2 linked regions of the Homo sapiens genome follow. The protein of the gene in region 2 purifies or fractionates together with the protein of the main gene of each other region. This does not show direct contact. Each region holds a gene or a part of one and is shown on either strand. Other genes may lie near its edges.

What was found.
Region 1: the proteins of AEBP2 (region 2) and EZH1 purify together in Homo sapiens (affinity purification with mass spectrometry; 3 studies listed by BioGRID and IntAct, with this or other methods). This does not show direct contact.

What each region holds. Positions count from the first base shown.
Region 1 is NC_000017.11:42,698,879-42,707,421, reverse strand, and holds the end of EZH1 (histone-lysine N-methyltransferase EZH1), read left to right. Parts: intron 1-1,236; coding exon 1,237-1,415; intron 1,416-2,238; coding exon 2,239-2,334; intron 2,335-2,738; coding exon 2,739-2,820; intron 2,821-3,601; coding exon 3,602-3,682; intron 3,683-4,460; coding exon 4,461-4,545; intron 4,546-4,829; coding exon 4,830-4,890; 3' UTR 4,891-7,147; downstream 7,148-8,543. Other genes in the region: CNTNAP1 (contactin-associated protein 1 precursor), read right to left, coding at 8,512-8,543.
Region 2 is NC_000012.12:19,518,292-19,523,879, forward strand, and holds the end of AEBP2 (zinc finger protein AEBP2), read left to right. Parts: 3' UTR 1-383; coding exon of another isoform or gene 384-429; 3' UTR 430-3,936; downstream 3,937-5,588. UniProt on the Homo sapiens protein: Acts as an accessory subunit for the core Polycomb repressive complex 2 (PRC2), which mediates histone H3K27 (H3K27me3) trimethylation on chromatin leading to transcriptional repression of the affected target gene.

The sequences.
Region 1 (8,543 bases), on a different chromosome or scaffold from region 2:
GACATGGTGGTACATGCTTGTAGTCCCAGCTACTTGGGAGGCTGAGGCACAAGAACTGCTTGAACCCAGAGGGCAGAGGCTGCCAGTGAGCCAAGATTGTGCCACTGCACTCCAGCCTGGGCAACAGAGCAAGACTCTGTCTCAAAAAGAAAAGAAATGTGGGACTCTTTTTTTTTTTTTTAAGTTACAGCCCCAGTTTCCCTTTTCTGAATACTGTTTTAAAAAATTTTTTATTCAGATATTTTTTGTTTGTGATTCTGTGTATGTCTATTTTCATTTCATAGCTGGAGTTTTAATATCAGGTAGAAGACAGGGGCCTGGATGTCAGCAGAGACATCCGGGTACTTATCTTTTACTTCTTATCCCACCATGCCCTTCCCAACTCAAAGCTGAGCAGTTTGATGGCAGTCCCCACAGCTTGCAGAACTTGGTGCCCAGGCGGTTTTGCTGGAGGAAATACCTCCTAACCCATAGCAGATAGTGATCTTAGCCGCAGCAGAGAAGTGGTTGCGCTGGGTTGGGCAGTGGGTGGAGAAGGATGGCATAGAACGGATGCATTCTGTTCTCAAAATGATACTTGTTTTGATGGTGACAATTTACCAGTGAAACACACTGATTTCATATTCTCTGGGGTACTCTCCACCTCAGTGGGAGGGAGAGGATTGTTGGGGAATCTCTAGGGGACACTTCTTATTAGTATACCTGCTTTTTTTTTCATTTTTTAAATTTTTTTGAGACAGGATCTCAGCTCTGTTGCTCAGGCTGGAGAGAAGTGGCACAATTATGGCTCACTGCAGCCTCAACCTCCCTGGCTCAAGCCATTCATCCCCCTACATCCATCAAGCCTGGGACTACAGGCAGGTGTCACCACACATGGCTATTTTTTTTTTTAATTTTTTTGTGGAGACAGGATCTCCCTATGTTGCCCAGCCTGGTTTTGAACTCCTGGGCTCAGGTGATTCTCCTGCCTTGGCCTCCCAAAGTGCTAGGATTACAGGCATGAGCCACCATGCTTGACCACACCTGCTTTTTTGACTCGAAGGCATGAATGTTGGGAAGCACTCAGTTTTCTATGGACAAAACTTGTGTATTTGATTATTGGGAAGGGAGCTTCCTCTTATTTTGCCAAACATCCTTGAACACAAAAAATTTACTTCTTTGCTGTCCCTTGAGTCAACCACAAGCCCCAGTATTAGCTTATTTCCCTTCTAAGACTTACCTGTCTTCCCTTCCCAGGTCAGAATCGTTTCCCTGGCTGTCGCTGTAAGACCCAGTGCAATACCAAGCAATGTCCTTGCTATCTGGCAGTGCGAGAATGTGACCCTGACCTGTGTCTCACCTGTGGGGCCTCAGAGCACTGGGACTGCAAGGTGGTTTCCTGTAAAAACTGCAGCATCCAGCGTGGACTTAAGAAGGTGAGGCCTTTCCTCAGGACCCCACACCACATAAAATGGAGGGGGAAGGAAGGAACGGTCCCAAGCATTCTCTTTCCACTGGTTCTTTTGAGGCTTTATATGTGAAAGTGCTTGATAAATCCTAAAAGACACATATTTACTGAATTAATAAAGGCTTCAGTCCCAGTAGGGCTTAGAAAAATGGTTCCTGGCCAGGTGTGGTGGCTCATGCCTGTAATCCCAGCAGTTTGGGAGGCCGAGGCCAGCGGATCATGAGGTCAAGAGTTCGAGACCAGCCTGGGCAACATGGTGAAACCCTGTCTCTACTAAAAATATAAAAATTAGCCAGGCATGGTGGTGCATGCCTGTAATCCCAGCTACTCAGAAGGCTGAGGTAGGAGAATCGCTTGAACCTGGGAGGTGGAGGTTGCAGCAAGCCGAGATCGCACCACTGCACTCCAGCCTGGGACAGAGTGAGATTCCATCTCCAAAAAGAGAAAGAAAAGTGGTTCCTTGAACTGGCCAGACAAAAAGGAGCTGCGAGGTGTATGCACCTTTGGTGATGTCTATGTTTACCTCACACATTGCAGTGAATTCCTATAGACTAAGGCCCAGGAGGGCTCCATGGATAAAGGAAGAGATATCCTATTTCCGTTCGTCACCACCTCCCATTTTCTTTTCTCTCCCAAGCAGAAAAGAATGGGTTAGACCTTTTTCTGCTTTCAGATCCTCTTAACAGTTGCTGGTTCTTTCCACCCCACCCCCACCACACATGTGCACATCCAGCACACACCCCCTACTCATGCACACCCTGTAGTCTGAGACTTGGCCCCCTCTTCCCCAGCACCTGCTGCTGGCCCCCTCTGATGTGGCCGGATGGGGCACCTTCATAAAGGAGTCTGTGCAGAAGAACGAATTCATTTCTGAATACTGTGGTGAGGTGAGTGCTATAGTTTTGGCCCACATTCTTACTCGGGGGAGACTGATGAGAAACTCTGATTTTCTGTGGGCCAGGCTTCTTTGAATTAATCTCTAAATAACTCAGCTGTGTTCTCACGTGGCCTCTTGGGGAGATCCCACAGAACCGTTTGCAGTACTGAAACCACTGTTCAACTCTTTGGCAACTCCAGACACAAGAGATGAGGGGGGCTCTTTTCAGCCTTAAAACTGGTTGGCCTGGGTGGGAATTGGAACAGCATAACTTGAACTTGCTCTCTTGTGATTCTCATCATGATGCTCAGTAAGCACCCATGTGAGATACCACCCAGCCCTTTCTGGGGGCAGGGTACCATGCCCTGAGCAGGCAGCCTGATACTCCTATTTGTTATTTGTCTATCTCTCTAGCTCATCTCTCAGGATGAGGCTGATCGACGCGGAAAGGTCTATGACAAATACATGTCCAGCTTCCTCTTCAACCTCAATAATGGTATGAAGTCACTTTGTCTCATCCCAAGGTGGTCTTTTTTTTTTTTCTTTTTTTGAGACGGAGTCTTGCTCTGTTGCCCAGGCTAGGGTGCAATGGTGCGATCTTGGCTCACTGTAGCCTCTACCCTCTGCCTCCCGGGTTCAAGTGATTCTCCTGCCTCAGCCTCCCGAGTAGCTGGGACTACAAGCACCTGCCACCATGCCCGGCTAATATTTTTGTATTTTTAGTAGAGACTGGGTTTCACCATGTTGGCCAGGCTGGTATCGAACTCCTGGCCTCAAGTGATCCACCCGCCTCGGCCTCCCAAAGTGCTAGGATTACAGGAGTAAGCCACCGCACTTGGCCCCAAGGTGATCTTTCTACCAGATTGCCCTTGCTGTAGTCCAAGTTTAGATCAGCTCCGAATCTTCCAGCAGATGCATAGAGCAAGGGGGCAGGATCACACTTGGGGATCCCACAGGCCACAGTGCCCTTGCTTTGGAAGAACCTCCATTTCTGGGTTCTGTTTGTAATAGGAGTGCTGAGCGTCTTTACCTGAGAAATCTCCCTGCCCAGTAGATGAGAAGATCCATAATTCAAAGAGGGACCCAAAGGGAGTGCTCCCACACAAGGCTGAATTCTGAGGCTGCATGCTTTCCTCTGCTCCTGTTAGCACACTGGGCTTCAACATTCCCATCAGACTAAAGTGTTTCTGTTACCATTTAACTGATTTTAAATTCAAGCTGAGAAGCTGTGGAATTGCCTGCTGTGCTTATGGTTTTCCTTGATTTACTTTATACAGATTTTGTAGTGGATGCTACTCGGAAAGGAAACAAAATTCGATTTGCAAATCATTCAGTGAATCCCAACTGTTATGCCAAAGGTGAGTCCCAGTAACCTGGGAGGTGGGGTGGGGGATGGATGCCTCTTTACTGTGATTTCCATTCGTTGTTGAACATTTTCCTTAGCTGAGCTATTTTTTGTCCAAAGATAATCATGATTAATATCTGGTATCATTTTAGGCCCCTCTCAATCTTAGTTTTCTAATCTGCTTTTTTCAGCGAATACATTATAAACACTTTCCCACAAACATGATTTAACCAGCCTGAGCAACATAGTGAGACCCATCTCACAAAATAATAATAGGCTGGGTGTGGTGGCTTACGCCTGTAATCCCAGCACTTTGGGAGGCTGAGGCAGGTGGATCACTTGAGGCCAGGAGTTCAAGACCAGCCTAGCAAACATGGTGAAACCCCATCTCTACTAAAAATACAAAAATCAGCTGGGGGGCGTGGTGGTGTGCACCTGTAGTCCCAGCTACTCAGGTGGCTGAGGCACAAGAATCGCTTGAACCCTGGAGGCAGAGGTTGCAATGAGCCAAGATCATGCCACTGCACTCCAGCCTGGGCAACAGAGCAAGACTCTGTCTCAAAAAACAAAACAAAACAAAACAAAAAACCCCACTTATAATAATAATAAAGATAATTTTTCTGCCATAATAACAGATCTAAAAGCATAGAGGCAACTACCATATTGACTACTTTCTAATTCCATTTGATTCATGTTTTCACTGGGAATTTGGAGAAAATCAACCCAGAAGCCTACTGGTTATTGACTTGGAGTTGGGTAGGAACCTAGCCTCGGGTTTATCCTGCTTGCAGTGGTCATGGTGAATGGAGACCATCGGATTGGGATCTTTGCCAAGAGGGCAATTCAAGCTGGCGAAGAGCTCTTCTTTGATTACAGGTGAGGTGCCAGTAATGGTCCTTGGGATGTGGCCCAGGAATTGGAAAGAGTGGCTGTTGGAATAGATTTGGGGGCTCAGGGAGGGTAATGGAGATGGAGGAGAGAGTCTCCCGGTGAATAAGGCTGTGTCCCTTGTTCTGATATCTGGTGCCTTGCCTCAGAAGTGGGACCATTGTAAACAGCCCTTAAGGAGTGGGAGGGGAAGTGAAACGGGAGGGGACTCCGCCTTTTCAATCACAAAAGTCATGAGAGTAACCTGGTTCCTCTTCCCTGCTCTGGGACAGGTACAGCCAAGCTGATGCTCTCAAGTACGTGGGGATCGAGAGGGAGACCGACGTCCTTTAGCCCTCCCAGGCCCCACGGCAGCACTTATGGTAGCGGCACTGTCTTGGCTTTCGTGCTCACACCACTGCTGCTCGAGTCTCCTGCACTGTGTCTCCCACACTGAGAAACCCCCCAACCCACTCCCTCTGTAGTGAGGCCTCTGCCATGTCCAGAGGGCACAAAACTGTCTCAATGAGAGGGGAGACAGAGGCAGCTAGGGCTTGGTCTCCCAGGACAGAGAGTTACAGAAATGGGAGACTGTTTCTCTGGCCTCAGAAGAAGCGAGCACAGGCTGGGGTGGATGACTTATGCGTGATTTCGTGTCGGCTCCCCAGGCTGTGGCCTCAGGAATCAACTTAGGCAGTTCCCAACAAGCGCTAGCCTGTAATTGTAGCTTTCCACATCAAGAGTCCTTATGTTATTGGGATGCAGGCAAACCTCTGTGGTCCTAAGACCTGGAGAGGACAGGCTAAGTGAAGTGTGGTCCCTGGAGCCTACAAGTGGTCTGGGTTAGAGGCGAGCCTGGCAGGCAGCACAGACTGAACTCAGAGGTAGACAGGTCACCTTACTACCTCCTCCCTCGTGGCAGGGCTCAAACTGAAAGAGTGTGGGTTCTAAGTACAGGCATTCAAGGCTGGGGGAAGGAAAGCTACGCCATCCTTCCTTAGCCAGAGAGGGAGAACCAGCCAGATGATAGTAGTTAAACTGCTAAGCTTGGGCCCAGGAGGCTTTGAGAAAGCCTTCTCTGTGTACTCTGGAGATAGATGGAGAAGTGTTTTCAGATTCCTGGGAACAGACACCAGTGCTCCAGCTCCTCCAAAGTTCTGGCTTAGCAGCTGCAGGCAAGCATTATGCTGCTATTGAAGAAGCATTAGGGGTATGCCTGGCAGGTGTGAGCATCCTGGCTCGCTGGATTTGTGGGTGTTTTCAGGCCTTCCATTCCCCATAGAGGCAAGGCCCAATGGCCAGTGTTGCTTATCGCTTCAGGGTAGGTGGGCACAGGCTTGGACTAGAGAGGAGAAAGATTGGTGTAATCTGCTTTCCTGTCTGTAGTGCCTGCTGTTTGGAAAGGGTGAGTTAGAATATGTTCCAAGGTTGGTGAGGGGCTAAATTGCACGCGTTTAGGCTGGCACCCCGTGTGCAGGGCACACTGGCAGAGGGTATCTGAAGTGGGAGAAGAAGCAGGTAGACCACCTGTCCCAGGCTGTGGTGCCACCCTCTCTGGCATTCATGCAGAGCAAAGCACTTTAACCATTTCTTTTAAAAGGTCTATAGATTGGGGTAGAGTTTGGCCTAAGGTCTCTAGGGTCCCTGCCTAAATCCCACTCCTGAGGGAGGGGGAAGAAGAGAGGGTGGGAGATTCTCCTCCAGTCCTGTCTCATCTCCTGGGAGAGGCAGACGAGTGAGTTTCACACAGAAGAATTTCATGTGAATGGGGCCAGCAAGAGCTGCCCTGTGTCCATGGTGGGTGTGCCGGGCTGGCTGGGAACAAGGAGCAGTATGTTGAGTAGAAAGGGTGTGGGCGGGTATAGATTGGCCTGGGAGTGTTACAGTAGGGAGCAGGCTTCTCCCTTCTTTCTGGGACTCAGAGCCCCGCTTCTTCCCACTCCACTTGTTGTCCCATGAAGGAAGAAGTGGGGTTCCTCCTGACCCAGCTGCCTCTTACGGTTTGGTATGGGACATGCACACACACTCACATGCTCTCACTCACCACACTGGAGGGCACACACGTACCCCGCACCCAGCAACTCCTGACAGAAAGCTCCTCCCACCCAAATGGGCCAGGCCCCAGCATGATCCTGAAATCTGCATCCGCCGTGGTTTGTATTCATTGTGCATATCAGGGATACCCTCAAGCTGGACTGTGGGTTCCAAATTACTCATAGAGGAGAAAACCAGAGAAAGATGAAGAGGAGGAGTTAGGTCTATTTGAAATGCCAGGGGCTCGCTGTGAGGAATAGGTGAAAAAAAACTTTTCACCAGCCTTTGAGAGACTAGACTGACCCCACCCTTCCTTCAGTGAGCAGAATCACTGTGGTCAGTCTCCTGTCCCAGCTTCAGTTCATGAATACTCCTGTTCCTCCAGTTTCCCATCCTTTGTCCCTGCTGTCCCCCACTTTTAAAGATGGGTCTCAACCCCTCCCCACCACGTCATGATGGATGGGGCAAGGTGGTGGGGACTAGGGGAGCCTGGTATACATGCGGCTTCATTGCCAATAAATTTCATGCACTTTAAAGTCCTGTGGCTTGTGACCTCTTAATAAAGTGTTAGAATCCATTTTGGCAAGTTGTGTACTGTGTGCTTTGGGGCTGGAAGGATCCAGGGATGGGGTCCAGGAGCAGGTTGGGCCGAAGCATCAGCATTCTGATCCCCACTTACCCACTGAGATCTGGGAAAGGGGGAGATGGGGGTTCTGGCAAGAGCCAGTCAGTCAAGTCCCTGGAAGGTGATGCAAGGATTCTGAGAGCTCCTTCTAGAAATTCCTGAGCCCTCAGATTAGTTCCCTTAAAATCATCCCACTTATCCCCTAACCACGACGCCAGCTACCACACACAGACTGGGGCTCTGCCACTCTGCTTTATTGGAACGGCTCCGCGTCTGAGAGCACAGCAGGCTCAACCCTGCTTCAGAGTGGAGGCCGGACCAGGCTGGTGGGTGACCAGCAGGACTCACGACACTTCCAACACAGGAAAGGCAAACTACAGACTGTGGGCACAGCACAGCACAGGACAGCACAGCCAATTGAGCTTTTCTTTTATATATAAACAAATAATTTAAAAATTCGAATAATATATAGAGTTTCTCTAGAGAGACACTTTGCAACAAAAAATATATATAAAGAATATGACCTCCTGGGTAAATGAAGCAGCATCTCTGAGCGGAGGAAAGAGGGTTCCTCATGCACTGGAGGGGGCGAAGCCTTTGGGCAGGCACAAAGGCCATTGCATATCTTGGAAAAGGTTGGAGGAGTAGAGGGCTGGCTAGTCAGGGTATCTGCATTATTTTCTCTACGTTGCAGGTTTTTTATGGCTTTGGCTAAAGCAAGTGAAGCAGCGGAGGTACTAAGGTGCTAAACTGAGGCCTCTTGGTCTCTGTGTACAAAACAAAAGGAGGGGGGCAGGGGACAGCCATCAAGCCCTCTTGAGCCTCCAGCTGAGTGGAAGCAAATGGAAGATCTTCAGGGCAGGGGGGAGGCTGGGGGATAGGGTTTAGCAGCCTCCTCCCCCCATACCCTCTGCAGCCCTGCACTCCCACACATCTGTCCCTGCTGATAGTGTCTATTGGAAGGGAGGCAGTTAATCTCCCCTACACTCTGTTGTTAATCCCTGACAGCAGCTGGAACAGAGATGGCAGAAAGGACCTATGTCAACCCCATGAGGCTTCTCCTTTGGGGCAGATAAACAGCCAGGAGCCTGGGGAAACAGGGATGAGAAGGGCATTGGTTTAGGCAGTGAGGCTCGGCCACTCCCTTGGGTCCCATCTGTAGCTCTGCCCACCAAACTTGATGGGGGGGGGATGGGGGAATATCCTCTGGATGAGCAGAGCCAGCTAAGAGGAGCCAAATGTCCCTGATAGGATGGGGGAGAGGCAGGACTGGGGGAATGTCAGGAGCTGGAATTGGTCCCAGAAGCCCTTCTGACTCATTCAGACCTGGACTCCTCCAGGATCTGGG
Region 2 (5,588 bases):
AGTAGACTCTTCGGTGGAATATATTAATATATTACTGTATATCCACATTTTCATGGAATGGTACTGTGGGAGACTGAGCAAACACTCTTTTGGCAACTTAGTAGAACAGCTTCTTAAAGGCTTTGCATGCTTGCTGCTTTAAGCTGCTTTTTTTTTTCTTTTCTTCCCTTTAGTGATTTCAGTAGTTTATATTGGAAAGAAAAACAATTACAACATGTGCCCTTACAAATACCAAAAGCACTGTAAGGATATTTGTCTTGACAGTGTTTATTGATTTGAAGTCATATTAGGAAATATTTAGACAATGAAAATTATCAAGAGATAATTTACCTTTCAATTATGATAAATAGATGTGATTGGTTGCCATTTGTGTTCTTTTGCAGAACTCTGATAAGAAAAGTGTTCAATTTGTATTTAAGCAAACAGTGAACGACGTTTGCAATCAACTAAAAATTCGTCTATCGAATTAGGGCTGAAAATTACTGTTAAAGAGTGTTGCAGTATGTCTGGTGGCTCCCTTTTCAGGACTAGGGCTTTCTCATGGAGTACAGTATGTTAATATTTACCTATATAACTAATCTGTTAACGGTTTTTGAAAAACCTTTCAAATTATTTGAATAATCTTCATATTTTCATTTAACCTATATGACTCTAATTTTTTTTCTGAGGAAATCATTTGGTTTTTGAGTTGTTTTTTCTTAATGTAAGAAAAATTGTATTTTTTTTACAAGTATCTTCAAACTGAATCTTTTATGCACCAAAGTTGGTCTTGAAAAGGAAAATAAAATCACTTTCTTGCTTGGTAAGCAAGAAGCCATATCGATTTTTTTTAACTTACAGAAATGGAAATATGTGTAACTTGTTAGTATTGTATTAAACAAATGTTGCATAGAGATAATAGAACATTGCTTGTAAATAATTCAGCAGATTTGTAATATATTTTTATATTTTGAAATGTACTGTAGATGTTTTCTAGAGGCATGAAAGTTAAATGTATATATTATGGTAGAAATAATATTGAAGGATATTGTACTTCACTAGTGCTGCCAGAGGAATTGTTAATAAAAGCACCTTCTTTAACAATAAATGTCTTTCACAGACTTAAGGGACTATGTACTACTGTTAATATCTCTAAGAACAAAACACATTGAACATCCTTCCAGAAAGTCTTTGAGGGAGGACCTATACCCATAATAGAATTATGGCACTCATTTCTGACAGTGATCAAGAAATCAGTTATTTCCTTACTGTTGGAAGGACATTGTAAAGTATGTGGTTATATGCAGTGAAACTGCAGAAAATACTCCTGGTTGAGGAGTTTTCACTTTACTACAGTGATATAAAAACCAGCAGTTTTTACACTAAATTTTTTAAAGAAATATTAGACAAAAATATAGAATTAAAACCTTTGGTTCCAAAATGGGAAAGGTTCCACGATACATAAATCATTTCTCATTTGCTTTAAAAAATTTAAAAGTGTAAAAATTATGAGAGACTTTATTCGTTAACAATGGGGGTAAAGAGCTATATACATGAAAATGAGTCTTATAAAATTAAGTGAAGTGCAAATAAAAGCACTGCTACTATAAGACATTCTGGAATGGTTGTTTAATAAGGGTATTATCCATTTGATCTATAGCAATGTGATTTTATTTTTAAAAAGAAAAGCAGTGTGTTTTCTTTTTTTGTTGTTTTCTTTTGCTTAAGCACTTCATCAATTGCTTTATTCTGTATCTGCGAAGTAATCTGCAATCTCTTTTGTTCTTTTTAAAATTTGATTTGTTATAAAATTGCCAAATAGAAGTGTTTCAGATACATAGTTTGTACCTGTATTTTTATTTTATTGCCTCATGTTCTTGTAAGTCATTCTTAATTGACCAATGATTGTAGACCTTGCTTGAGTATTTTTTCTAATAAAACAAAGCAAATCACATTTAGCTTCAAATTGTAACAATTCAATTGAATTTTAAAATGACACCTGAAAAGATACATCTGATATTTTCTATATAGAGCACAGTAAATAAGTTTTTTCATTGTGTAGAAATACTTAGATGTCAAAACCAGATTTCGTGATCCTTGATTAACTTCTGAGTACTCAATCAATCATAATCCTTTTGCTGCTTATCTGATGTTGGTTTGATACTGTTAACACACCAAAAAGAATATGGAATTGAAATGAGCTAGCTTTATAACTTGTATGTATACATATATACACATAACATCCAATTATGACTGGGTAATAAGTGTGAAAATTTTAATTTGTGGTTTTCATTTATTAATGTCTGCCCATCTGTATTGTTGCTCCTACCTTCAAATATGACACCTGAAATAATAAGTCTGTTGTCCAGAATTTATGTATTGTTCAGCATCAAGCAAACTACAGCTCACAAGCATACCCATTTATATGTTGTCTATGCCTGCTTTCTCCTGCAGTGGCAGAATTGAGTGGTGAGACCTTAGGTCCTGCAAGCCCCCAATTTTTACTACAGGTTGGCAATCCCTAATCCAAAAATCTGACATAAAAAATGCTCCAAAGTTCAAAACTTTCTGAGTGCTGACATCATGCTGCAAGTGGAAAATTCCACGCCTGACCTCATGTGACTGGTCATAGTCAAAACAATTAAGACTTTGTTTCATGCACAAAATTATTAAAACTGTTGTATAAAATTACCTTCAGTCTATGTGTATAAGGTGTTTGTGAGATATAAATGAACTTTATGTTTAGTCTTGGATCGCATTTCTGAGTCTCATTATGTATATGCAGATACTCAAAAATCTGAAAAAAATCAAAAATCTGAAATACTTCTGGTCCCAAGCATTTCGGATAAGGGATACTCAGCCTGTCTCTGGTCCTTTAAGAAAAAGTTTTCGATTCCTTTGTCTAGTTGACAAAAAGTTTGGAAACATAAACTTAGACCACACAACTTGCATTTTAATATGACAATGTTGATCTTGGTAATAAGCCAGTACATTAAATTTTAGTGAAAGCTGTTTCATGTATTTTACAGTAAATACTGCCATATTAGGTACCTACAACAAATGGTGGTTTTTGGAAACTTTTACGGTGGGTTTTTAAAGTTATTAATAGTCCATCATTTCATCATTTGTGTTTCTGTATTTATTTTGCTAAGAACTAAATAAGATTTTGTACATCAGATTGTGTTTGAACCGTAAGGCACATCTGCTTTATCTAAAAGAATCTTAAGGTGGAAATAGTGTAAAATTTAAAATTTTTTATATTTCTAATAAACTTTTTATATATAAATGTTACCTAAAGTGGACACATGTTACTTCTGAATTTCACATGAAAGGAAATTAAAGATGGACAATAATTATCTCTCAATATTTTAAGATTTGTTTTACTAATTGAAAACAGTATGTCAGTAAATCTTTGGCCTTAGTGCTTTTTTCCCCCTTTTACACATTAATAAAATGTTTTAAATATGGTAATACTCTTAAAACGGTAGAATTTGCCACAGTTGTTTAAAGCATTTTTATTTTTTCTTTGAATTCTTAATTCATGGTGAACAGATGTTGGGTTCTTAAAATATAAAAATGAGAAAATATGTATTAAAAATACTTGATAGAGGGTTTTCTCTTTAATCACAACTTAAAAAAAGAAACCTTTAATACCTCTGCATAAGTTCTCTGAAAGAACTTAAATTCTTAGTTTATATGAAAACTGATATGTATGTCTGTGTAACAAAGCCTGTTGGGTACAGGTCTACAAGGAGATACTTTGTTTCTAAAAAAGGAGTTAAATCGTGTCACCTGAATTTTTTTTTTTTGAGATAAGTGGACATTTTGGGGATTTTGGTTAAAACATATTTCTCTATTCTAAAAATTACAGAATATGTATTCATAAAAGGGAAGAAATTGTTAGAAAATTTCCTGTGTACGTAGTTTGTTTTTAAATTAAAGAATCTTGTGACCTGGTGTAGGACATTTTGCATTTGTAACACTGCAGTTTTAATATATTTGCTGTTTTTTTTAAAATTAGAATATGTTTAAAATTTAATGGTTATGAGGCTCTGTAGCCTTAAAATGTTTTATAGTAGTAAAATGTATTATTTTCATCTTAAAAAAAACTAAATATTTACATTGCATAATTTATTTATTGAATCAAGTTTACGTGGTCTAACACATGGTTCTGTTAATCTGAAAATTGAAAAGGATTTGTAAGCAGGTTAGAGCAGGAATTGCAACCCAGATTTTTTTTTTTCTAGGTCAGAATTCTTTTCACTATACCAAACTGCTGCTCACAGTGTGAGAACATGAATGTACATTGTGATACCACTATAAAGTTGTGTCCAGTGTTTCTGCCACAGCCAGTCTAGCATGATCATTCATGGCACAAAATAGTCTGTAAAATTTGTTAAATGAGTATTATAGGTGAGTAATTTTTACAGTAAAATACTTTGGAGAATTAACAGTGATAAAACAGTAGTAGGGTTGAAGTGACCTGGCTTAAGCCACATTCTGTGATAGTGTCAGGTACCTTTTCATAAGAACCTTATATACGGATATAGTGGTTCATGCTTGTAATCCCAACTACTTGGGAGGGTAAGAAGGGAGGATTGCTTGAGGCCAAGAGTTCCAGGCTACAGTGAGCTATGATTGGACCACTGCATTCCAGTCTGGGTGACACAGCGAGACCCCACCTCTTTATTTTTCGCTACGGAGTCTTGCTCTCTTGCTGAGGCTGAAGTGCAGTGGTGTGATCTCAGCTCACTGCACCCTCTGCTTCCGGCTTCAAGTGGTTCTTGTGGCTCAGCCTCCCACGTAGCTGGGACTACAGGTGCGTGCCACCATGCCCAGCTAATTTTTGTATTTTTTAGTAGGGACGGGGTTTTGCCATGTTGGCCAGCCTGGGCTTGAAATCCTTACCGCAGGTGATTCTCCCACCTCTGCCTCCCAAAGTGCTGGCATTACAGGCATGAGCCACTGTGCCTGGCCCCCGCCTCTTTAAACAACAACAAAAGTTCTAATAAAAGGAACTGTGCTTCAGTTTGTTTAGACATTCTTAGTGTAAAGGGTTATTGATGTTATGTTTTTACATATTGGATGTAATATTTTGGCTTACTTGATTTTATTTAAAAATGTTCCTTTTTGTCCTGTTTTATGATGTAAATAACTTTTTTTTTTTTTTTTTTTTTTGAGACAGATTCTTACTCTGTCGCCCAGGCTGTAGTGCAGTGGCGGGATTGTAGCTCGCTGCAGCTTCAAAACGCCTTGGGCTCAAGTGACCCTGTCGCGTTGGCCTCCCGAGTAGCTAGGCCTCCAGGCATGCACCACCACGCTGGCTTTTTTAATATATTGCCCAGGCTGGTCTTCAACTCATGGTATTACAGGTGTGAGCCGAGCCACTGCACCTGGCCCAACATTTTTTTTTTAAAAAACACTATTTTGAAGGAGCTATGCAGTATTTGGTTTCCTGTTTTTTGAGATGGAATCTCTCTCTCTTGCTCAGGCTGGGGTGCAATGGCACAATCGCTGCTCACTGCAGCTGCTGCCTCCCGGGTTCAAGCGATTGTCTTGCCTCAGCCTCCTGAGTAGCTGGGATTACAGACACACACCACCACGCCCGG